3 separate regions of the Homo sapiens genome follow, and all the other regions are linked to region 3. The links come from fine-mapping of genetic effects on gene expression. A gene starts in region 3. Each other region holds a variant in brackets. All regions are shown on one strand. Distances are from middle to middle.

Region 1 (8,184 bases), 130 kb after region 3:
ATGCTCGGCCTGTTACACACACACACACACACCTGGTATTACAGGTGTGAGCCAACATGCTCAGCCTGTTACACACACACAAACATATATATTTTTAAGACAGAGTTTCACTCTTATTGCCCAGGCTGGAGTGCAATGCGTGATCTCGTCTCACTGCAGCCTGCAACCTCTGCCTCCTGCCTCAGCCTCCCGAGTAATTGGAATTATTACAGGCATGCACCACTACAGCCGGCTAATTTTTTATTTTTAGTAGAGATGGGGTTTCGCCATGTTGGTCAGGCTGGTCTCAGAAATCCTGACCTCAGGTGATCCACCCGTTGTGGCCTCCCAAAATGCTGGGATTACAGTCATGAGCCACTGCTCCTGGTCACGTAATTTTTAAATATAATTTTAGCTGTATCTTGTGTTCAGTTTTCTAGGCTACCTTTTTCACTCAACATTACATCAGGATCATTTTTCCTCATGTTATTCTTTGAGATATTTTTAATGGGCTTGTAGTGTCCCATCATGTGATTTACCAGTTTACTTTCTGTTTTTTAGTTGTTTACAGCTCTTCCTTCGTTGTGATGCTGTGAACCTCTTGTGCATAAATTATCATGTGCATCTCTAATTATTTCTTAGAGTACAGTCCCAGGAGTTGTGAATGTGGGTGAAGCCCCTGCTCCTGCTGCCAGGCCCACCTCTCAGAGAGTTTCGTGTACACGTGTGCAGGGAAGGGCTGACCTAGCTAGGTCTCTGAAACCCGTGCCAGATACTAAATCTGCACAGGCTGCGACAGTGAGCAGACTGAGGGCGATCTGTGCCTTATTGTCTTCCTGTTGGAAGAGAACACATAAATCACGTATCTCAAATGTGAGGCAAATAGCTAATGGTGTTTGTGTATACGAGGAAGGTGGAGTCACCGGTTCTTCGTGGCCATCAGAGGACCGACACGCCCATAGGTCTCATGCATTAAGTCTGCGTTGAGCAATCCCTAACACGGTTTTTGCCTACAGATACATTTGCACAACTGTGAAAACCAGGTACGTATTCATTGCATCATTTTTTGTAAAAAGCTGAGAGAAGTGCCCAGCAACACGTCGTGCCGCGCGTGTGCATGGAACACCATATAGCCTCACCATTAATAGGCAAGATGAGCGAGACCCATTATCAGATGAGAAAAGCACGGCACGGAATACTGTGTCCAATGTGCTCACCGTCTCAATTTTAAACCTAAAGGAGGGAGAACATTTTCTCATGCGTGCATTTCATCTCTGGGAGCACTTAAGACGCTGAAGCGTTGGTTGCCAGTGGGAATGGGAACTGGGTATCTGTGATACAGGGATGAGAATTTTCACACTGTACCTTTAAATACCAGAACGTCATGAACACATCTGAAAAACAATATTCAAATTTCCCTGATCATCTTTCTTTTTTGTTAACAATTATTTAAATTCTGGCACAAGCAAGCCACTTTTCATCATGCATTTGGTCTATAGATGTTCTACCTCCCTCAATTTCGTCTTGTAATTTAATGAATAGGGGAACTGGGGCCGGGCACGGTGGCTCACGCCTGTAATCCCAGCACTTTGGGAGGCTGAGGCGGGTGGATCACGAGGTCAGGAGATCGAGATCATCCTGGCTAACATGGTGAAACCCCGTCTCTACTAAAAATACAAAAAATTAGCCGGGCGTGGTGGCGGGAGCCTGTAGTCCAAGCTATGCGGGAGGCTGAGGCAGGAGAATGGCGTGAACCCGGGAGGCGGATGTTGCAGTAAGCCGAGATTGCACCACTGCACTCCAGCCTGGGTGACAGAGCAAGACTCCGTCTCAAAAAAATAAATAAATAAAAATAATAGGGTAACTGGGTTGCTTCTTTGTATCTCTTGAAAACTGATAGAGGTCTCATCAGATTCTAAATTTGAATTTTTCTTTTTTTGGCAATAACATCACATAGGTAATGTCGTATGCTTCCCATTCCCTTAATCATCGTGGAGATCCACTTCTCGTGAGTCATCTCCCCACAATGCTGGGATCGATCTCTGCGTCAGAATTCCTCTTGATTTTAGTGGTCACTTATCACTGCCTAGATCCATTGTTTAATGTGCTTCTAAAACAGCCGTGTTCTAATTACATAATTGTATAATTTATTAGCTGGAATTTTCTATTTAAAAACAGCTTTGTTTCTTCTCACCAATGATTTGGTTAACCCGAGTAATAGCTTGTACAGGAAAGATAGAATAAATCTTGATCCTTTTTAAAAAATTTTTATAGACAGGGTCTCACTGTGTGTTGCCCAGGCTGGAGTGCAGTGGTGTGATCATACCTCACTAACCTCGACCTCCTGGGCTCAAGACATCTTTTCACCTCAGCCTCCCAAGTAGCTGGGAGTATAGGGGCAGACCACCACACCTGGCTAATTGTTTTGATTTTTATTTTTAGTGGAAATGAGGTCTCGTTATGTTGCCCAGGCTGGTCTCGAACTCCTAAGCTCAAGCCATCCCCCAGCTAGGCCTCCCAAAGTGCTGGGACTACAGGTGTGAGCTATGCGCCTGGCCTGGAATGTTATTTATCCCTTTTTATGCCTGAAGCACAGTGCATAATCTTTTATGTAAGTTAGAACTAAGCCATCAATGTAATTTTTTAAAAAAGCAAATGTGGGCCAGGCACGGTGGCTCACGCCTGTAATCCCAGCACTTTGGGAGGCAGAGGTGGGCAGATCACAAAGTCAGGAGTTCAAGACCATCCTGGCCAACGTGGTGAAACCCCTTATCTAGGAAAAATCCAAAAATTAGCCAGGCATGGTGGCAGGCACCTGTAATCCCAGCTACTTGGGAGACTGAGGCAGGAGAATCGCTTGAACCTGGGAGGCAGAGGTTGCAGTGAGCTGAGATGGCGCCATTGCCCTCCAGCCTGGGCGACAGAGCTAGACTCCATCTCAAAGAAAACAAACAACAACAACAAAGCAAATGTGGTTTCGGGAAAATGTGACTGCAATGGTAACTTTACTGATTGGAGCAGGCACATTTTGTGTACTTTGTATTAAAACTCATGTAATGCCATGCTTGTTACAGTGACATCTTGCACACATGCTGTTTTTCAGGAGTTGTATCCCGCATTTTGTATTCACAACGGAGGCTCCGACCTTGAGCGGCTCCCCACAGCCAGCACCTGCATGAACCTGCTGAAGCTCCCCGAGTTCTATGACGAGACACTTTTGCGAAGTAAACTTCTCTATGCGATTGAATGTGCCGCTGGCTTTGAGCTGAGCTGAAGCTGATGCTGGGGTCAGACCCCTACAGAGAACCAGTGCTTCCTTCGTCAGCAGCGCCTCCCCAGACCCACGAGGATACTCACACTGCACGCCTGAGGCTCTCCTAAGCTCCTTCTTTCATTCTGCCATTCCTCCCTCCCTTCCTTTTTTAAATGATTTTTATTACGGTGTGGTCACTTATTTAGATGGACATTGCTTTTCAAATAACTTAAAATAACACGTTATGTGCCATGTGGCTACTTTAGTAATATTGCCAAGAAGAGCACAGTTTTTACACTAGTGGCATCTCAGTGAAATTAACCAAAGATGAAGCTTTGGCTTTGCTGGTGAGATCAGAGCCCTCCTGAGCAGGCAGCGCCACTCCAGGGTTCAGACAGGGCTGCACAGGCGGCAGAGATACAGGGTCTGAGGGCTGAGACGCCATGGGGCCGCTGCTGCTTATGTGGTTGGATTGTTTACAAGCCTCATTATTAAAACTGAAGGCATTTTTTTTTTCTGCTGCCTTTCCCAAAGTGGTTAGGTTTGGAAAAGAGATGATGATGGTAATATTTTATTTGTGCTTTTTAAGCCATTTCCCCAAATGGGACTAGCATGCTTGTTTTCAGTATACCGTGGCCTGCCTCATGATGGTTTGGAGATACTGTCTGTGGATGTGAGGTGGGGACTTCATTCATTGTCCTATTTCTATCTCCACTTTGTGCCTGGAGAGCTTTCAGGGGAGGTGGAGGAGGAGGGTCTGCCAAGCTACTGCAACATCTGTCACCCACTATACCCAGTTACTTGGGGGAGGACAGACACTGTGGTGTCATTAAAGTTGTTTGAACCAAAGTGGCGGCTGCATCTTTGTCCCGATGCTAGCCGTGCCGGTCTCCCATCATCCGCTCGCCCTCCTTTCCCCTGGGCTGCGCCCACTTGTCTTCCTGGATATTTGGGGGTGACTCGCCATGCTTGGCACCCTCTGCTTCCTGGTGCTGCTCTGACTCGAAGACGGGACAGTCCCTGGTGCACATCCAGGGAAGAGGAGTGTCGGTAGTTCTTGCAGTAGGCACTTTATCAGGACCTGACCTGTTGCTGGGTGATTTTAGTCTCTACAAACAGAAAGCGTTTCAAAGCGTCAGCTGTGGGAGCAGAGTGACCCTTTGCTGATGCTGGGGGGAGGGGATCTAAATCCTCATTTATCTCTTCTATGTCTCGTATTTTACTGTCACTGGAGGCTCTGTGGGCTGTCATAGTTAATTGACCATAATTAGCAATATACTTTTAAAGTGGGAAAGCTGAATGACACTTTTAAGACAATGAACATTATCAAAACAAAATGTATAATTTCTTAATTTGAATA[ATAAAT/A]TAAGCGTTTAAATGCTATTTGTAGTCTTGATATACAGAAATAAAATAATTAGGGTTGGTCTTTTTTATTTTAGGTTGTTTTATGTTGAATGTTCTATATCTTATTAGTTAATTTGTATATTTTATTAGTATTTTGGAAATAGCATATCTGAGACTGAAGAGAAATTGACAATTCACTTATTTGTGGTTTTTTTCTCAGCTATTCTGAGCTTATTTATTTATTTGTATGTTCTAATGGCTAAACATTTACATTAAATGTTTTTTTTCCCAAGATTGTGTTGGAGTCCTACCCCAAATCATTGTGATTAGCACAGCTTCTGAATGTTACTAGTTTTATCACAGGTGTTTGCATGTCACCAGCTAATGGAGTATAGTAAGATGGCCTACACTCACTGAGAATCAGAGGTCCTCGGGAGGATGCCTGTCATCAGGGGTGGGCCGAGCGTGGCTCCCAGGCCGGCGGCCGGTGTGCTCCTATCCGACCAGCCACGGGTGTTGGCTTCCCGAGTCTCCCATTGGGTCTGGCATTAGTTCTTGAAAAATTTCTGGAGGAAGATTCTTTGTTCTTTGTTTTGTTTGCCCTTTTCTACGTTCTGTCCTACTTTCTGCTTTCTGGTAATTTTGTACACAAACCTAAATGTTGACTTGGGGTTATTGCAGATACTTCTCATGAGGTGTTATCTGCAGAGAGATCTTTGTTTTGGTATCCTGAGCTCGTTAAGGCAGCTTTATCGATTGCAGTGGTTTACAGGATGGTGTGTGCTTTTGCGGAGTGTGGGAAACCAGATACTGCATCCCTGCCCATCGTGAGCCTGCAGTCTACACTCTATGTATCCCTGCCGTTGACATGCAGGCCTCCAGTGGTGGAACTGGGAGCACGGGAAAGGCTGTGGTGGGGTTAATGACTCCTTCCAGGAACTTCCTGAGGAGGTGAGTGGTGAACCTGAAATAATTGAATACGTAAGCTTTCTCATACTTGAAAGAAATAAACAGCCAAAGGCATATGGTAACTCAAATAGAAATTCAGGGCATGCTCAGCTCTTTCAGATCCACCTGCTCCGGGTCAGCAAGCATCACAACTAGCAGGGTAGTCTAGGAAGTGACGCAGCCACCCTGTGCATCCCTCACAGAACAGCAGGTTCACCTGGAGGTTTTTCTAATGAGAAATTACCTAGACTTCCCAAACACGGGCTGAATGCTGGAGTGCTACACTGTGGCATGCTGGGATCAACCCAGAGGGCTTTTCCTGGTGCTTGGATGGTGGTCAAAGTTGGTGACCTGAAGAGACTGGTGACCAGCATGTCCAGGTGGGAAAAGGCACTGACTACACAAAGGTCTCTGCTTCCAGAAAATTCTGAGGGTAAGTTCTTGAGCCCAAGTGCTTTGTGCCTCGACTGATTTATCTGTGAAACAGGGACAGTCTGGAGGCTTGGGTTTCACAGGAGCATTCTGGAGATGCCATGAGCATTGTAGACAGGCTTTTGACTTTCACATACTGTAAACCACGTTTTAATTTGTCTCCCTAGGCGGTTGGTGTCACAGGTTGCAAACATCACATCTTCAAAAGTCTGCCCTAACAGCCTACAAGGTTACAATAGTTTTGGCCAAGGTCTTAACAATAAAAATATTGCTGTATAAAGGCAACGTTACTACTACTTTTTCTTCTGCAGAGGTAGGCAGAAAACGGTAATCTCTTTAAATGCTGTTCTCTTTTTATGTGCATTTTTCTTTTTTTGAGACAGAGTCTCGCTCATTTGCCCTGGCCAGAGTGCAGTAGTACTATCTGGGCTCACTGCAAGCTCCGCCTCCCGGGTTCAAGCGATCGTCCTGCCTCAGCCTCCCGAGTAGCTGGGATTACAGGCGTGAGCCACCGCGCCCGGCCCCACTTTTGCTTTAAGAGGATGGTTCACGTTCTGATTACTGAGATGGATTGCTGTGGTTTGGATTCATCGATTGCGCACTTCTAAATGTTGACAGGAGGCAGTGTCCGTCATTAGCTTATAACTGAGGGCCTTATTTATGTTCAAAATACTGAGCTGAAGACTCTTGACACCAATTTTACCGTTCAGATAGGAGCTCCCACCACCAGCCTCGTCTTCCCTGACCCTGGAGTGGGCAAAAGCAAACATAGAGGCTCGAAGGGTGTCACAGGAGGGAACCATAGCCAGCCAACTGGGGCTGCCTAGAGAGGCAAATACGGCAGAAGTCACTGGGTTTTTCTTTCTGCACGATCCAGAATAAAGAAAGGCACACCTGTTGTGCTCATTAAGGTGATCTTATGTCATGGAAGCAGCCTGGTGTCAGTCTTGAATTTATCGTGGAGGGTGTTCACATACTGAGTCACCCAAAGAATTCAATTGCTGGCAATGTTTCTTAGATTTGTGGATAGCACAAGGTCCATGCGTCTCCTTGAACTGCCAGGATTGCAGACAGAAGTCCGCCTCCACGATGGGTGCTCCACGCCTTCACAGCTCAGGACCCGCATGTGAACTGGCCAGCGTCACTCCACGTACGCACCGTGCTAGGTAATGGGATGGCGCCGATGGACTGATGAGTTTGAGGTGATGACTGAATGGATGCTGTCGTGCTTGCATCCACAGACTTGACAGGACCAGAGCTGTTAGAGCTCATTCAAGTGTGAGGGGGGTAGTCTTTCTTAAAATGGTATCGTGTTCATGGTCATCAGCTCCCTGTGGCTGCTGTAGCAAATTACCACAAATCAGGTGGCTTAAAGCAGCAGCATTTCTCTCCTCCAGGGATCAGGAGGCCTCACAGCCTCAGGGAGGAACCCTTTGTCTCCTCCAGCTTCTGGTATCTGGTGTCTTCTCCCCCTGTCTCCAGTGTCCTGCCTTTTTCCTATAGACACCCCTGTAATCCAGGATGACTTCATCTCAAGATCCTCAATTACATCTGCAAAGACTTTTTCCAAATAAGGCCATGTATGTACACATGTCCTGGAGTCAGGACGTGGCCTGTTTCTTTGGGCAGCCCCATTCTGGCTGTGTTGATTTAAGTGTGGTAGGTAGACCCGTGGGGATTTCGAAACGTGTTCTGGTTGTACTTGGCTGTTGCCCACGCAGACGCAAACAAGCCTTTCCTTTGACTCAGTAAAACGAGCGGTGCATGAGATCAGTGTTCCCGGCCCTTCCTGAAGGCCATTGTGTCTCTAGGGGTTGGGGCTTAGCAGTCTGTATTTTTTATAGTGTCCTGGATAATCCTTCACAGGTGATTTCTGGAAAACAATTAGACAGTCTCAAAAAATCCTTTCAATGTTAAAAACTTCTAGGTTGGGAGTTGCAGGGCATTCCAGCTGATTTGCCTGGAGTTCATTTCTGGTGCTCCAGGGAGTCCTGATACCCGCAGCACCTGGGCCGGAACCTCCAGCTGTACGTGCCATCCAGGCTCCATGGAGGATGGTCTGTGGCACAGCTGCCGACTGCTCGGCTGTGGCCTGGCCCACAGCCCTTCGAGCCTCTACGTTTGCTTTTGCCCAGTCGGGGGTCAGGGAAGATGAGGCTGGTGCTGGGAGCTCCTATCTGAACCGTAAAACTGGTGTCAAGAGATCTTCAGCTCAGTATTTTGAACAT
Region 2 (8,184 bases), 100 kb after region 3:
TCAGATAGCATCTCTCTCTTTGTTGATGGTCACACAGCCTACTTCTCAGTTTCAGCTTCCCCTGGAGGATGTACATTTCATAATTCATTGTATGAAAATCTTTACAATGGGCCAGGCATGGTGGATCACACCTGTAATCCCAGCACTTTGGGAGGCCTAGGCAGGCGGATCACCTGAGGTCGGGAGCTCGAGACCAGCCTGACCAACATGGAGAAACCCCGTCTCTACTAAAAATACAAAATTAGCTGGGCGTGGTGGTGCATGCCTTTAATCCCAGCTACTCCAGAGGCTGAGGCAGGATAATGGCTTGAACCTGGAGGCGGAGGTTGTGGTGAGCCAAGGCCTTACCATTGCACTCCAGCCTGGCAACAAGAGCAAAACTCTGTCTCAAATTAAAAAAAAGAAAAGAAAAGAAAATCTTTACAATGAAATCCCTTAGTTCTTTCTGTTAAAGTGAGCCCAAGAACCTTCTAACTTAATATATATGTGAAAATAAAGGTGAGTGTTCTGCTAGACTAACCTGAAATACTCTAAACTTGGTGGTTTTTACACAGTACAGTCACAGAAGATAGAGCAATAATTTTACCTGCATGAATTAAATCTTAAGATTATATATTACTTTTTCTTCCTGAATGTATAAATCATCCAGTCTTGATTAATGTAGAAGCTAATAGTTATGTAAGTCTGGTGAGGATAAACTCATTTCTCCTCTGTTTATTGACATATTGCTTATAATTGAAATTATTCTGAAGATGATGTCATTGTACAGTTCTGTACTTTGGAATATGTATATATTTACAGAAGATCCAGGGAAGAGAATTTGTGATTTTAAACCTTTCTCCCACAAATGAAGTTTATGTAAGTTATATCTTATTAAGGCTGTTTAAAATAATAAAGTTTAGACCAATAACAAAACTAAGAGTAATTTGAGGATGGTAGTTAACTTAGTTTCACATATTTAAGACTTCCCTTACATTACTCTCTGTGTGGAAATTCCTAAGGGGTTACTAACTTCCAAAACATATCTGATGACCATCTGATTACAGAGTTAAACTTTGTGCTAATGTGCTAACCATTGCTCGGATCTAAGTAAGTGTCATAGTACAGCAGCTGATAGTGTGGCACCTGAACATTACATCTTCAAGAGAAGAAAACTGTATATTGATTGATTGTGATATTTATTGGGTCATAATGTATTTAAATTTTCTTTAATGCATATGTTAGTGATTGTTTACTGTGATAAAGTGCAAAGAGGTCTTCAAGAGTGATCCTGCAGAGGAAGAATTACCTCATGTCACTGGTCACTTCTCAATTAAAAGTTCCATTAGCAAATGATTCTTGCTTCTGGTGTGGGTCATGATTGCATTTTGTCGCCTGTAAGTCAGGCTGCAGACAGGGAATAAATAAACAGCCCAAGGATGTGGTAATGTCATCTTGAACTTTTTTTTACAGATAGAAGCACCTAGGTCCATTTAAGCCAATTAAGTTCAGAATATTTATTGAGGTTAATCCTTTATCATATTTGAATTCTATTTGAAAATGGCTTTTTTTCTTGCTTTAGGATATTGATTTAATTGGGATGGCATGCCTATAAATCAGATTATTTGATATGATCTTGGTTATATATTTGAAAATTTCAATTAGATTGTATAACTTTGGCGTGGTTTATAATTTTTTATCGCGGTAGAATTCAGTGTGCATTTAATGTATTCTGTAGTGTAATATTGGCACTTAACAGTTTATCTTGAGATTTTCAAAAGTTGGAAAGTTTCTTTTTCTCCATCATTAGCATCCTTTTGTAAAATGCTCACTGAATTTGCTGAGGCTTTAAACATCTAAATTGAGGTGAATACTAGTCATTTTGGTTGCCTTAGTCCTTAAAGGGGCAGAGCTTCTCTTGTATAATACCTTGTTTTGAACCCTAAACTCTTTTTTTTTTCTCTTTTTTTGAGATGGAGTCTCACTCTGTTGCCCAGGCTGGAGTGCAGTGGTGCGATCTTGGCTCACTGCAACCTCCACCTCCCGGGTTCAAGCGATTCTCCTGCCTCAGCCTCCCGAGTAGCTGGGATTACAGGTATCCACCACCATGCCCGGCTAATTTTTGTATTTTTAGTAGAGACGGGGTTTCATCATGTTGGCCAAGCTGGTCTCGAAATCCTGACCTCAGGTGATCTGCCCATCTCAGCCTTCCAAAGTGCTGGCATTACAGGCGTGAGCCAGCACACCCGGCAAGACAGTTTTCTATGTAAGTTTATTTCTTCAGAATTAACCATGAAATACAAGTGGTTTAGATTCTACAGTTAAAATGGGAGATGTATTCCTGAATTCAGTTGATTGCTGCACCTAAATAAGATTTCTCGGCTGGGTGCAGTGGCTCATGCCTGTAATCCCAACACTTTGGGAGGCCGAGGTGGGCAGATCACCAGGTCAGGAGATCGAGACCATCCTGGCTAACACGGTGAAACCCCATCTCTACTAAAAATACAAAAAATTAGCCGGGCGTGGTGGCGGGCGCCTGTAGTCCCAGCTACTCAGGAGGCTGAGGCAGGAGAATGGCGTGAACCCGGGAGGCGGAGCTTGCAGTGAGCCGAGATTGCGCCACTGCACTCCAGCCTGGGCGACAGAGCGAGACTCCGTCTCAAAAAAAAAGAAAAGATTTCTCACTGTAGGTTTAGCACCACAAGGTAAATTCTTTCTGCCCTTGGATTAAGTAGGTCTTGCTTACTATTGAGTTATTCCTTCCTTTTTATTTTTCTCATCACGCCCAAGCAATAGTTAAACATCTGAAATTCATGAGAAGAATGGATCAGTATGGTATTGAGACCATTCTGTTTTTTCTGGGCCATGTTAATTTGTCACCATGAAGATTAGAAGCACACACTCTTGCTGGCCCCACTTAAAGTCTGCTGTTTATCTTTGGCTCTTATTTGTGCAATAAAGACAACAAATAATCTAAAAAATAGTGTTGGGTGCAGTAGCTCATACCTGTAGTCCCAGCACTTTGGGAGGCCGAGGTGGGAAGAACACTTAAGCCCAGGAGTTCAAGACCATCCTAGGCATACATAGGGAGACCTGGTCTCTACCACTAAAAAAAAAAAAAAAGTAGCCAGGCATGGTGGTGTGTGTCTGTAGTCCCAGCTACTTGGGAGGCTGAGGTGGGAGGATTGCTTGAGCCTGAAATGTAGAGGCTGCAGTGAGCAGTGATGGCACCACCACACTCCAGCCTGGGTGACAGAGACCCTGTCTCAAAATAATAATAAAATAGGGCCCATGTAAATCCTTTTAAACATTTAAATATTCAATTTAATTTAGATTTAGATTTAGCAAATGTAACTTTATGAAATAAAAGCCAAATGAAGGTATATGGTGTTAATTTTATTGTTTCTAAACTTAAAATCAGCTTTGAGAGGCGGCAGTAAGTAGAGTGGTGGAGGTCACGCTCTGGAGTAAGACAGGCCAGTGGGGACTCCTGGCGTCACCAGCAGAGGGCAGCAGAATCCGGCCTGTGTTGTCGTGGGCCTCCTTGGCTTTGGTGTAAGTAGCTAGCATTGGTCAAGCACTCAAGCTGGGAGACCGGATGGAGTGTCACATCGTTCAGGTGGAGTGATGCTGCTGCCCATGTCCCGGTGGTAGTGCTGGTAAGAAGTCATCATATTCAAGGAGATTTGCTGATGAATGAGATGTTGGGATGTGTGAGGACAGGAGAAGGTAAGGGAACCACCTGGGTTCTGTTATGAGAACTAGAAGGATGGAGGTCATGCTGACTAAGCTGGGAAAGGTGCGGGCAGGAGCAGGTGTGGAGAGGGAGGCATTCTTATGGAGGCTTAGTGAGGGGCAGTTGAGGATAGGGGCCTCAAGTTAGAGGCAGTATCTGGGCTGAGCCATCAGCATTCCCAGGGTCCTTAAGGTCATTAGCCTGAATTAGATCACCCAGGGTGTAGGTGTCACTGGAGAAGAGAAGAGATGAAGAACTGAGCCCCAGGGCTCTCCAAGGTTTAGAGTCCAGAGAGTAGAGAATTGACTAATAGAAGTTCAGGAGATGAAGCTGGAAAGGAAGGGAGAAAACCAGAGAAGTGGGATTTCAGGTGCCAAATAAAGACAGTGTTTGAAAGGAAGAGAAAGGTGGGTATTGTGTGATGGTACTGTTAGACCAAGTAAGGTTTAGCACTGAGAAGTGGCCATGTCATTTAGCACTCTGGACAAGTGATTTCTGTGGCGTGGTGAAGGCAAAAACCTCAGCAGATGGGCTGAAAAGAATGTCAGGATTATCTTCCTAAAGCATCATATTAAAGCTGAAAATATCCACATCATATCACAAGAGAAATGTGTACCTATTAATTAGAATACATGTGAAAGAATGTTTATGGTAACACTGTATAGCCCCTAAACTGGAAACTACAAAAATGTCCTTCGAAAGCATAATGATAATAAATAAATTGTAGGATATTCACAAGACTTACTGAATGAACAGACTACAGCTACTCAAAATGGTATGAGTGAACGGCACAGACCTAACATTGAGTTGAAGAATCCAGACACACAAAAGTACATTTTGTCAGATTTCATTTATGGAAGTTCAGAAACAAGCAAAGCTCCTTGCAGTTTTTGGAAGGCAGGATCCTGATGCTCCTGGGAGGGTAACACTGGAAGGGGGTGCAGGGGGCTTCCAAGGTGCTAGGCATTTTCTGCGCTGTGGACTAAGTGCTTTTCCATAAGTGTGTTCACTGGGTAAAAATGGATGGAACCACAGG[C/G]TTGTGATTAGGGCACTCTGCAGCAGTAGACTTCAGAGCAGTTACAAGAGGAAGGATCGGAGAAGAATTGGGGGACTGGTTATCAAGAAAACTTGAGCAGCCGCTTAAGGGATATGGGGCTAGGAAAGCTGTGTTCTAAAGATGGGAGAAATAACAGCATGTGTATTTGCTGCTGGAAATAAGTCAGTGGAATTGCTGAGGGAGAGAGGAACCACACCCTGCAAAGTGAGGGTGTGGGGTCTGGTGCTGAAGCAGGGGGCGCCACAGGCTGCGTGTCCAAGAAGAGGTAGAGGAACACTGGGTGCAGCTGCATGAGCTGGGGAGCAGGAGCTCATTCTGACTGCATCCCACTGTTGCTGCTTTCTGGGTGATGCAGCAGAGAGCAAGGATGGGAAGAGCAGTGTTCCCAGACCAGCCACATCTGCATCACCGGGGGATCTATTAAAAATGCAAATTCTTGGGCTCCACCCCAGACCTTCTGAATCTGGAACTCTAGGGCTAGGGCTCAGCAAGCTGTGTGTTTTGGTTTTTGGTTTTTTGGGGTTTTTTGAGACAGAGTCTTGCTCTTGGCATGGCTCACTGCAACCTCTGCCTCCTGGTTCAAGCAATTCTCGTGCCTCAGCCTCCCAAGTAACTGGGACTACGGACACCCACCACCACGCCCGGCTAATTTTTGTGTTTTTTGTAGAGATGGGGTTTCGCCATGTTGGCCAGGCTGGTCTCGAATTCCTGGCCTCAAGTGATCCGCCCACCTCAGCCTCCCAAAGTGCTGGGATTATGGGTGTGAGCCATAGCACCCGGCCAGCAAGCTGTGAATAGGCTTCAATTAATAAGTGTGACTCTGATGCATGCTGAAATTTGAGAATTACTGGACAATGGAAATACAATAGGATTGCCAGTTAGTGTAGGGCCCACTTGACGTTAATATCATAAAGTGAAGTGAGACCAGCCGTGTGGGTTACTTTTTCTACACCCGTAAACGGCTGTGTGGGTCTGACTAGGATGTAGAGTCAGATTTAACCAGGGGTGGGGTTTTTTGCCAAGTGACTATAATAAAGGGTGAATTGGTTGCAAGTTCAGAGTGGTTACAAGAGCCTGCCTTTGAATCTAGGCTGTTTAGAGAGGAAATTAATCCGTGAATGGAGATTTGAGGGCAAGGGAAGCTGGACAGGAGAGGAGACCTGTGGAGTCGAGGTCCTTCAGGGAGTCAGTGTAGCGGTGGTTAGAGCTAAGATCAGAGGGGCTTAGTTACCGGTAATGCCACTTGGAGGACAGAGCTGAAGGAACTGGTAGCTAAGGTGGAGTTGAGGGACAGCCAGGATGGTAGAATGACAGTCAACTGTGTGCTACAGATGTCACCAAAAATTATCACCAGAGTGTGTTGGACTCTCAGGAGCTAAAATCTTGAATTAAGGGGCAGTGACTGAACCCGGGAGAGGTAATGGATGCGCAAGCCCAGTGCATGAGATTGAAAGCCAGGGATTTTAGCGGGAGGGAAGGGAAGGATGGTCTGGAAGTGGCAGTAAGGAGCACAGGGGGCCTACCTCCCTTCTGTGCCCGGTGGTTCAAGGGTGCAAAAGAGACCACAGCTACTCACGCAGAGTGCTCTGAGGATCACAGAGCGCTGCAGGGCATGTGGGAAAATGGACTGCTGAGTGTCGCAGCATAGTCAGGAAAAAATCCCGTCTTAGCTGTGAGACCAGGAGCACAAAAAACAAAAGGAAAAATGAACTGGACTTAAAAATGTTTATGCTTCAAAAGACACCATCAAGAAACTGAAAATACAACACACTGAAAGAGAAGATACTTGTGGCATATATATGAAGGACTCCATGATAAAAATGGGCGAAGGATCCAATTGGACATCTCTCCAGGGACTGGCAGCAAGCAAATGGGCCATTGGTTCGTGCAAAGATGGCCAGCATCACTAGTCATCAAGGAAGGGCAAAGCATAGCCACAGGCTGCCGCGCACACCCGCGAGTACGGCGGGAATCAAACCAGGAACCGCAGGGTTGGTGAGGATGTGGAGGAATCAGTCCTCATGCATTGCCAATGGGAAGATAAAATGGTGCAGCCACTTTGGAAAAGTTTAGCAGTTCCTCAAAAGGTTAATTACCTTTGGACCCAGCAAACATATTTACCCAAAAACTTGCACACAAATTCTCACAACAGCATTATTCCTAATAGCTAAAAGATGGAAATGACTCAAAGGCCCATCAGCTGACAAACGGGTAAACAGAATACGGTTCATCCATACAGTGGACTATTACTGGGCCGTAAAAAGGGGTAAAGCACTGACACATGGCACACATGGATGTGCCTTGAGAATGTTCTGCCCGGTGAGAGCAGATGCAGAGATCACCAAAGACATGGTTCCATTTATATGAAATGTCCAAAACAGGAAAATCTAGAGACAGAAGGTGGGTGAGTGATCGCCAGGGCTGGGAGGAACCAGGAGTGGCAGCTGAGGGATGTGGAGTTTCTTTTTAGAATAATGAAAATCTTCAGAAATTGATTGTGGCGATGGTCATACAACTTTACGAATATAATAAAACCTTTGAATGTAAGTTATGTGGGTGATATCCCAGTAAAGCTGTTACAAAGGAATCGTGCGGTAGGTAACGTGGTGACTGAGAGAGCCAGTGTCACAGAAGTTAGAGAAAGCAGCAGTCAGTATCAATCGGAGTTCATGGATGCTTTCGTTCTAAAGCTGGAAGGAGTATAGTGATTAGAGCATGAGCTGTTGTTAGGGAAACATAGTACCTGATGGTAACGAAATCTGTTATCATCGAAGGCATCATTGTCCTCAAATTTCTCAAGAGGTGGCTCGACAGATTTCTAGTCTGATATTTTATTCTCCTATATGGCAAAAGTAGAATTTTGAAACTTGAAAGATGTTTTCTTCTAATTGTTGAAAATAGTTCTTGGTTATGTGGGGTACCTTGAGACTGAGCCTGAGTTGTTTTTTTTTTTTTTTTTTTTTTTAAATTCCTACTGTCTTTCAGAAGCAGGAGTGTAAAACTGTCCTCAGATGCTCAGATGTTTGCTTCTTGTCAGTGGAAGTGGGAATATGGGTTTGCTACTTTAGCGAACTTCCTTGTTCATGAAGATGTTTTTTATCTTCTAGAAATATTTTGGTGAGCAGGGTCAGGGGTTTCTGTGTTTTGGAGCCTGAACCTGGAAGCCATAGAACTAGAAGTCGAGGAAAAAAAGGAAGGGTCGAGCCAGGTCTGGTGGCTCAAGCCTGTAATCCCAGCACTTTGGGAGGCCAAGGCGGGAGAATCACGAGGTCAGGAGTTCTAGACCAGCCTGACCAACATGGTGAAACCCCGTCTCTACTCAAAATACAAAAATAAGCTGGGCGTGGTGGTGGTTGCCTCTAATTCCAGCTACTTGGGAGGCTGAGGTAGGAAAATCGCTTGAAACCGGAAG
Region 3 (8,184 bases):
GCCCAGCCTGAAAATCTTTTATAGTGAAAATTACTCTTGAAAATTATTAATCTTTGTAGAGTGATAATGAGATCATAATCTTGTACAAAAATTCCACTTTTTAAGGGTTACTGACAAAATGACGTCTGGAATTTGCTTCAAAGGGATGGAGGGGAGTCTAATCACATAAGATTGGCCCTGGGGTGGGCACTCACTGACGCTGGGCGATAGCTGAAGGAGACTGATTGATTATATGAGTCTCCCTGGCTTGTTGAGTTTGAAATTTTCTATAAAAAGGTACTTTTAAAATCCTTGAAAATCCTTCATTAGGAATCATGTTAAAGATGCTGAAATGATCCTGATAAGACAGATTTTCCTGTGGCATCACTGGTTCTCCAGTGGACACCAGGGGAAGAAGTGGCTCATGGAGCAGGGCCACCCAGCAGACGCACCGACCTCAGCACAGAGGAGCACCCACCCTGGGCTGACTGTGGAAACAGACCAGATGCCAGGCAGCGGTGTTGAGATGGGCAGAGGTGCAGTCAGGAGCACTTCTTCCCTACCCATGTGGGCCGGTCAGAACATTTGAAAGAGGCCCAGCAGATGTGGGACAGCACCCCCCAGTTACCAGCAACACTGAGGTTGGTGTGAGATTCACATGGGCATTCTTGCTCCTCCTCCTAGTCCAGACATTGGAAGGGTTCATTCGAAGCAGAATCTCAGACTTCAGGCTGGGCGCGGTGGCTCACGCCTGTAATCCCAGCACTTTGGGAGGCCAAGGCGGGCGGATCATCTGAGGTCAGGAGTCCAAGATCAGCCTGATCAACGTGGTGAAACCCCATCTCTACTAAAAACACAAAAATTAGCCGGGCATGGTAGCGCACCTATAATCCCAGCTACTCGGGATGCTGAGACAGGAGAATCGCTTGAACCCAGGAGGTGGAGAGGTGGAAGCTGCAGTGAGCCAAGATCACGCCATTGCACTCCAACCCGGGCAACAAGAGCAAGACTCTGTCTCAAAAAAAAAAAAAAAAAAAAAAGAATCTGAGACTTCAGAGCAGACTTACAGAGGTCACAAATATTGATATTACCAATTTTAAATCTTTGCTAACCTGACAGGTAAAAACAAAAGGTTATATCTTTTTTAATTGACAAAATTTGTAAGCTTTCAAAATGGTAAAATTGGGACATTTTATGATTAAAAATACATTCTATACTGTTGCAGTTCAAATATATGTATGAACTATGATAGTTCATACATATATACGAACTGTGACCTTGTTCACATATATATACACACACACATTTGTGTCTGGGTGTGGGTGCCTTAGTCTATTTGGGTTGCTATAACAAAATGCCTTGGCCTGGGTAATTTTTGGACAACAGAAATATATCTCTCACAGCTCTGGAATCTGGGAAGTCCAAGATCAAGGCACCCCACATTCTGCGTCTGAGGACTCTGCTTCATAGATGGTGCCTTCTTGCTGTGTCTCCCCATGGCAGGAGGGACAAACAGGCTGCCTTGGGCACTGATTTCCTTCATGGGGGTGGAGCCTCATGCTATAAGACTTCCTAATGGCCCCTCCTCTTAATACGATCACATTGGGGACTAAGTTTCAAACTATGATTTTGGGGAGACACCAACATTCAGACAACAGTAGAGTGTTTGTATATCTTTCTAACCATCTATCTGTCTATATTTAATTTATATGGCAGATTTTTTCAAACTGTGAGCTGAGACCCATTAGTGGATTGTGAAACGTATTTAGTGCTTTGCGTCTAGCATTAAAAAGAAGACGACGACAGTGGGTGCAGTGGCTCATGCCTGTAATCCCAGCACTTTGGGAGGCCGAGGCAGGAGGATCTCTTGAGCCCAGGAATCTGAGACCAGCCTGGGCAACATAATGAGACCCACCTCTACAAGAAGTGGGGGGGGGGGGAAAGCTGGGGGGTTGGGGGGAAAGCCAGGCTACTGGCACACACCTGGTCCAGCCATTTGGGACGCTGAACTGGGAGAATTGCCTGAGCACAGGAGGTTGAGGCTGCAGTTAGCTGTGATCGTACCACAGCACTCCAGCCTGGGCAATACAGTGAGACCCTGTCTCAAAAAAATAATAATAAAATAAAATAAAAAGACAGAATTTTTTTTAAAAAAAACAGTGCATTCCACATAGTAATGACAAATATTAGTTTTAAAATTTGGCTTTTCCCAATTAAAAAACGAGCAAAGGGCCTGAATTTTTCCAAATAGACATAAAAACGGCCAAGAGGTAATGAAAAGGTGCTCATCGTCAATAACCGTCAAGGAAATGCAAAACAAAACCACAATGAAATATCACCTCACAGTATTAGCATGGCTATTATCCAAAAGACAAGTGTTGGTGAGGGTGTGGGGAAATAGAAGCCTTTGCCCATCGTTGGAGGTACAGCCATTATGGCAAACAGTATGGAGTTTCCTCAAAAAAAACAAAACTGGAACTACCACATGACTCAGCGATCCCTCTGCTGGTTATATATCTACAGGAAATGAAATTGTTTCTTCTGGAGCTCCTCTCAGTTCATTGCAACATTATTCATAACAGCAAGATACAGAAGGAATTCCTGTCATTGGCTACATGTGTGAACCTGGAGGACATGATGCCAAGTTAAATAAGCGAGACAGAGAGAAAGATACTGATGAGCTCACTTATACGTGGAATCCAACAGTCAAATCCTATCTAGAAACAGAGAGTAGAGTGGTGCTTCCTGGGGCTGGGAAAAATGGGGAGAGATATGTAAAAGGAAACACACTCGCAGTTATGTAGCATAAATATGCCCACAGATCTAATGTTCACAGGAGGACTGTTTATTATTATTGTTATTAATTTTTATTTTTATTTATTTATTTTGAGACGGAGTCTCCCTCTGTTCCCCAGGCTGGAGTGCAGTGGCGCGAGTGGCGCGATCTCGGCTCACTGCAAGCTCCGCCTCCCGGGTTCACGCCATTCTCCTGCCTCAGCCTCCCAAGTAGCTGGGACTACAGGCGCCTGCCACTATGCCTGGCTAATTTTTTTGGTATTTTTAGTAGAGACGGGGTTTCACTGTGTTAGCCAGGATGGTCTCGATCTCCTGACCTCGTGATCTGCCCGCCTCGGCCTCCCAAAGTGCTGGGATTACAGGCGTGAGCCACCGCGCCCGGCCTGTTTATTTTTATTTTTTGAGACAGAGTCTCACTCTGTCACCCAGGCTGGAGTACAGTGGCACGATCTCAGCTCATTGCAACCTCCGCCTCGCAGACACAAGCGAGTCTCTTGTCTCAGCCTCCCAAGCAGCTAGAAGTTTAAGAACTTTAAGTGGGGGACCACCTATACATAAACATGCCACCATGCTCAGCTAATTTTTGTACTTTTAGTAGAGACGGGGTTTCCCCATGTTGGCGAGGCTGGTCTCAAACTCCTGACCTGAGGTGATCCACCCACCTTAGCCTCCCAAAGTGCTGGGATTACAGGCGGCGCCAGGACTGTATTTCTTTTTTTTTTTTTTTTTTTGAGACGGAGTCTCTGTGTCGCCCAGGCCGGAGTGCAATAACACGATCTCAGCTCACTGCAACCTCTGCCTCCTGGGTTCAAGCAATTCTCCTGCCTTAGCCTCCAGAGTAGCTTGGACTACAGGCGTGCACCACCACACCGGCCTAAGTTTTGTATTTTATTAGAGATGGGGTTTCACCATGTTGGCCAGGCTGGTCTCGAACTTTTCACTTCAGGTGATCCGCCCGCCTTGGCCTCCCAGAGTGCTGGGATTACCGGCGTGAGCGACCGTGCTCGGCCGCAGGACGACTGTAGATGATATCGTATTGTGTGTTGAAATTTTGCTAAGAGAGTAGATTTTATGTACTCTTACCACACACACACAAAGAGGGTAGTCATTTCACAATGTCTCTATGAAATCATCATGTTGCACACCTTGTATACAACCAAAAATCAATTTTTAGAAATTGGTTTCAATCGTGTATGATATATATGTATATGCACATGTATATGAGATATTATGTATACGTATGTGTGGATATAAGACACATGTTTATGTATAGGTGGTCCCCAACTTAAAATGGCTCAACTTACAATTTTTTGACTTTGTGATGGGTTTATTGTAGCATTAAATACATTTTCAACTTACAATATTTTCATCTTACGATGGGTTTATCAGGACAAAGCCCCATGGTAAGTCCAGGAGCAAATATTTTTGCATACACAGGTATGTGTACATGATACATATTTATATGTATTGATGCTGTATCTATAGATGCATATGTGTGCTATGTATGAGGCAAATCTGCGCATGTCTGTGTACATGGTAAATATTTACGTCCGTCTGTGCGTGTCATAGACATAGAACAGGTGGGATGTAAACAGACGGGCTGGGCCTAGCTGCTCCTTTCCCGCCTCACTCGAGTCTGGCACCAGATTGGCCGCTCCCAGCCCGCTCCGGGTGCCGGCCCCTGCACCCCACCCTGCACCCCGCACCCTGCCCTGCACCCCATCCCGGCCCGTGCCTCGCACTCCACCTTTCCCGCACCCTGCCCCGCACCCAACACCTCCCGCGCCCCTCGCCGCGCTCCCCCAGCACGCACCAGGCCCCGCCCACTCCGCCGCGTGCCCAGCCCGCGTCACCGCCGTCCTCCCCAGGCTCCAGCGCGCCTTGCGGGGCCGCGCACGCTAGCGGAACCGCCGGGAAGAGCGCCGTGCCGTCAATGGCGGAGGCGCGCACGTCTGCAGGGCCGCGCACGTCTGCAGGGCCGCGCACGTCTGCAGGGCCGCGCACGTCTGCAGGGCCGCGCACGTCTGCAGGGCCGCGCACGTCTGCAGGGCCGCGCACGTCTGCAGGGCCGCGCACGCACTGACGGCTGACCGCCATCTTCCCTCCCGAGGCGGCAGTTCCAGGTGCAAGCGCCGGGTTTGCTGCCCGCTGGGCGCCCCTGCAGCGGCCCGAGCTGTGGCCGGCGTGGATGAGGGGCAGGCGAGGCAGGGCCGCCCCTCCAGTATTGCCGCCCCTCCCGCCCCAGGGCAGGGCTGGGAGGGTACAGCCCGGGGGCGGGCTCGGGTCGCCTCCCGGCCGCCGCGTCCTCGCTGCCCCGGGCCGGGCGGGCGGGCGCCGAGAGCCTCCCAGCCCGCCCCGTGCCCCGCCCGCCCGGCTGCTTCCGCGGCGGCGCTGCCCGCACATGGGCTAGGCTGCCAGGATGTTCAGCTTCGAAGGCGACTTCAAGACGCGGCCCAAGGTGTCCCTTGGCGGCGCGAGCAGGAAGGTGAGGGCCGGGCTGGCGGGGCGCCCTCGGCTCGGGGCCTGCGCGGCCGGGGCTCGGGGCTGGGACTCGGGGCTGGACTCGGGGCTGGACTCGGGGCCGAGACTTGGGGCTGGATTCGGGGCCTCCCTGGCGGGGACTCGGGGCTTCCTCGCCGGATCTCGGGGCCGCTCCGGCCGGGACTCGGGGTTGGACTCGGAGCCGAGACTTGGGGCCAGGACTCTGGCTGGGGCTTAGGACTGGACTCGGGGCCTCCCTGGCTGGAACTCGAGGCCGCGCCCGTGGGGGCCTTGCCTGTCCACTGCGCTTCGGGACCCGGGCGCGCTGGCCGTGGCTCCCTTCCATGCAGGAGGCCGGTGAACCCTGGCACGCTTTGTGCCACCCAAGGTGAACTTACCCTTTCTGGGTGTTTCCTTTCAGAAATGCGCTTTCCATGCTCGCTCCCGCATGGCATCAGGGAGTGGCTGCTTTTCGAATGCCACCTGAAGGGCGTTTTCGGTTGTAGAAGGTGAACGGCACGCATTTGCTGATGTCGATAATCTCTAAAGTAGAGGCAGAACGTCTCATGAATAGCCACGTGTTTGAATCCAAGACGAGGGCAATTATTTGCCACCAGCCTCCTGGAAACTGTGGAGAGACTCCGGACTTACATCTGTTGTGATCGACATTAAGTTGTTCGCATGGTAATTGTTTAGGATAAGGGTAGGCAAACCATGACGCCTCTGTTCTAGTCTAGAATTTCTAGCTGTCTGTCCCTGAAGACGGGCATCAGTTGGTTCACTGGAACCGCTAAGTCGTTGAACACTGTGTGGTCTTGTTCCCGCCCCTCCCTTCCCACCCCTTCCCATCATTTCTGAAATGTTCTTTAAAATGCTTCACCTAGTTTTTCTTGTCTATCAGTATATTCTGTATATCACAACCACCAGGTAGGCACATAACGCAGAGTGGGTGCTGGCAGGCCAAGGAGGAACTGCTGTTATTAAGATTGTGCTGTGGGGCTGTGTTTGGTGGTTTCTGAGGTTAGAAGGGAACCTGGGTAAAGAGTTGGGAGAGAAGTGTGCTGATAATTTTTCAGCTTTGAGGTTCGTGTGATGGTGATTGCTTGGAAGTCACTTGTGCTCCAGAACTAAGTACTGTGCAGTTAAGGGTGGTCGTGGTAGCACTTAGGGTCTTCCACGTTAATGAAAATGTTTTATGAGATCAAAGGATTTCTACAGTTAGGAGAGACTTCAGAGAATCTCAGGGCCAAATCGCCTTGCTTACAAGTTCGGAAGGTGAGCTGCAGAACATTTGAAGGAGTGCCCATTCACACAGCAAGCTAGTGGCAGACCATCTGAGACTCCATGCCATTTACACAGCGCCGCGCGGCCTCTGTTGCAGGCAGGAACACCCCACGGGCCACGGATGTTGGTCCCTTTTCACCAAGGAGTGCATCTCTGCTCTGAGGGAGTGAGATTTCTTAACTGTTGATCAGAATCTCAAGGGAAGATAGCACGAGCTGTGTAAAAGAATCACCCCTTTAAAAACAAAACTCTTTTTATTGAGGTATAACTTAAGATACAGTCAGGTTCACAAACACTAAAGAGATCCTTGTGCAAGTGAAATTGAGGAGGAAGGGCGAGAGGGAAGCTGGGTAGGGAAGGAAAAGGCGTCTCAGCTGGAGGCTAGCGTTAACCCCATCTCACCAGGAGCATGCTACAATTGGCCCTAATTGCGGCAGAGGGGTTGGTGGCTGCAGGCTGCTGCCCCTCCGGGATGAGGGTGGGAGTGTGGCACTGCTAACCCTGAGCCGAGGGCCATTCTTCTGGGAGAGAGTGGCAGTAAAGAGCCCTTAGTAGGAACTGGCAGCAGCTGGGGCATGGGTGCCCTGGCCTGGTTAAGGAATCTGGGTGGGGAGCCAGCTGTATGTACAGCTTGAAGGATTTTTGCATATGGACACTCTCCTGTAGATGGAACACCACTCACATCAAAGGAAGACCATCCCCAGCATTCCAGAGGCTCCCCTGCACTCTCACCCATTCATTACAGTCATATGTGACTTAAAGAGGGGGACGCTGTCACTAGTCCAGTTGGTTGTTGTGGGACCGTCCTAGAGTGCACTTAACAGAAACCTATAGCCAGTGTTGCCCACTGCACACCTAGCTGCTTGGTACAGCCCGTTGCCCCTATGCTACACACCTGGACAGCGTGTTTCTGTGCTGAATACTGTAGGCAGCTCTTCATGCAATGGTGAGTGTCTGTGCATCCAAACGTAGATACAGTAAAAATACAAATTATAATCTTATGGGACCACGGTGTATATGTGGTCTGTTGTCGACAGACTGAGAGGTCATTATGCCATGTATGTCTGTAGCCCCACAAAGGTGACTGTCCTTCTGACCTCCATTACTGTAGATGAGCGTTACCTGTTGAACTTCAGGGGCATGGAGCCACTCACCACTTGTCGTTTGTGCCCGGCTGCTTTGGCTTGGCTTCTGTCTGAGAGGTGGACTCCATCCGCCTCGGTGCACGGCATTGCCCTTTGTGTGAACGCACCGTGGCTGATTCTGTTTTCTTACAGACCTTTGCTGTGTGTGCCTTTTGGTGCACATAATACTCTTGTGCTGGGTCCTAGATGATACGCATGTTCAGCTGTTGTGCACACCGCTGCCACAGTTTCCCCGTGTCGCACGCCCACAGCATCTGAAGGTATCCAGGTTTCCACATCCTTGCCAACACTTGATATTGCAAGTCCTTTAATTTTAGTGAGGATGTAGTTTCTTTGTGGTTTTAATTTTGTTTCCTGACAACTAATTATGTTGAGCACCTACATATGCTTGTTTTCCTGAATTCTCTTTGACTGCCGCATAAGTCCCTTCCCTTGTTGGAAAAATGAAGTTATAGTGACCCTTTTCTCATGTCTTAAATTATTATTTGAAATCTTCCCT

Alleles and levels. Alleles are on the strand shown, and positions count from the first base shown. SD is a standard deviation of normalised expression in the study named. Not every link is listed here.
As copies of G replace C in region 2, the expression in naive CD4 T cells of the gene that starts at base 4,848 in region 3 goes down (large effect, 1.0 SD a copy in Schmiedel 2018).

The links. PIP is the estimated chance that this variant, and not a neighbour inherited with it, causes the effect.
Region 1: its variant is the best candidate, but not a certain one, in a credible set for the expression of UBE3C in whole blood (TOPMed, PIP 0.57).
Region 2: its variant is the best candidate, but not a certain one, in a credible set for the expression of UBE3C in naive CD4 T cells (Schmiedel 2018, PIP 0.83).

Annotation. Positions count from the first base shown.
Region 1 is chr7:157,264,503-157,272,686 of GRCh38, forward strand. It overlaps UBE3C (ubiquitin protein ligase E3C), which reads left to right. Exons shown (of 23, transcript NM_014671.3): 23 at 3,083-4,868. The coding sequence ends at 3,253. Among named protein-coding and RNA genes, the nearest start is that of DNAJB6, 68 kb to the right of the region's middle. RefSeq lists enhancers at 7,313-8,081, 7,473-7,767, 8,082-8,184. The variant ATAAAT/A (reference allele first, on the strand shown) is at 4,593.
Region 2 is chr7:157,234,801-157,242,984 of GRCh38, forward strand. The region is part of intron 18 of UBE3C (ubiquitin protein ligase E3C); the gene reads left to right. Among named protein-coding and RNA genes, the nearest start is that of DNAJB6, 98 kb to the right of the region's middle. The variant C/G (reference allele first, on the strand shown) is at 4,752.
Region 3 is chr7:157,134,079-157,142,262 of GRCh38, forward strand. It overlaps UBE3C (ubiquitin protein ligase E3C), which reads left to right and starts at 4,848. Exons shown (of 23, transcript NM_014671.3): 1 at 4,848-5,260. The coding sequence starts at 5,195. RefSeq lists silencers at 4,340-4,689, 4,970-5,359, 5,410-5,479.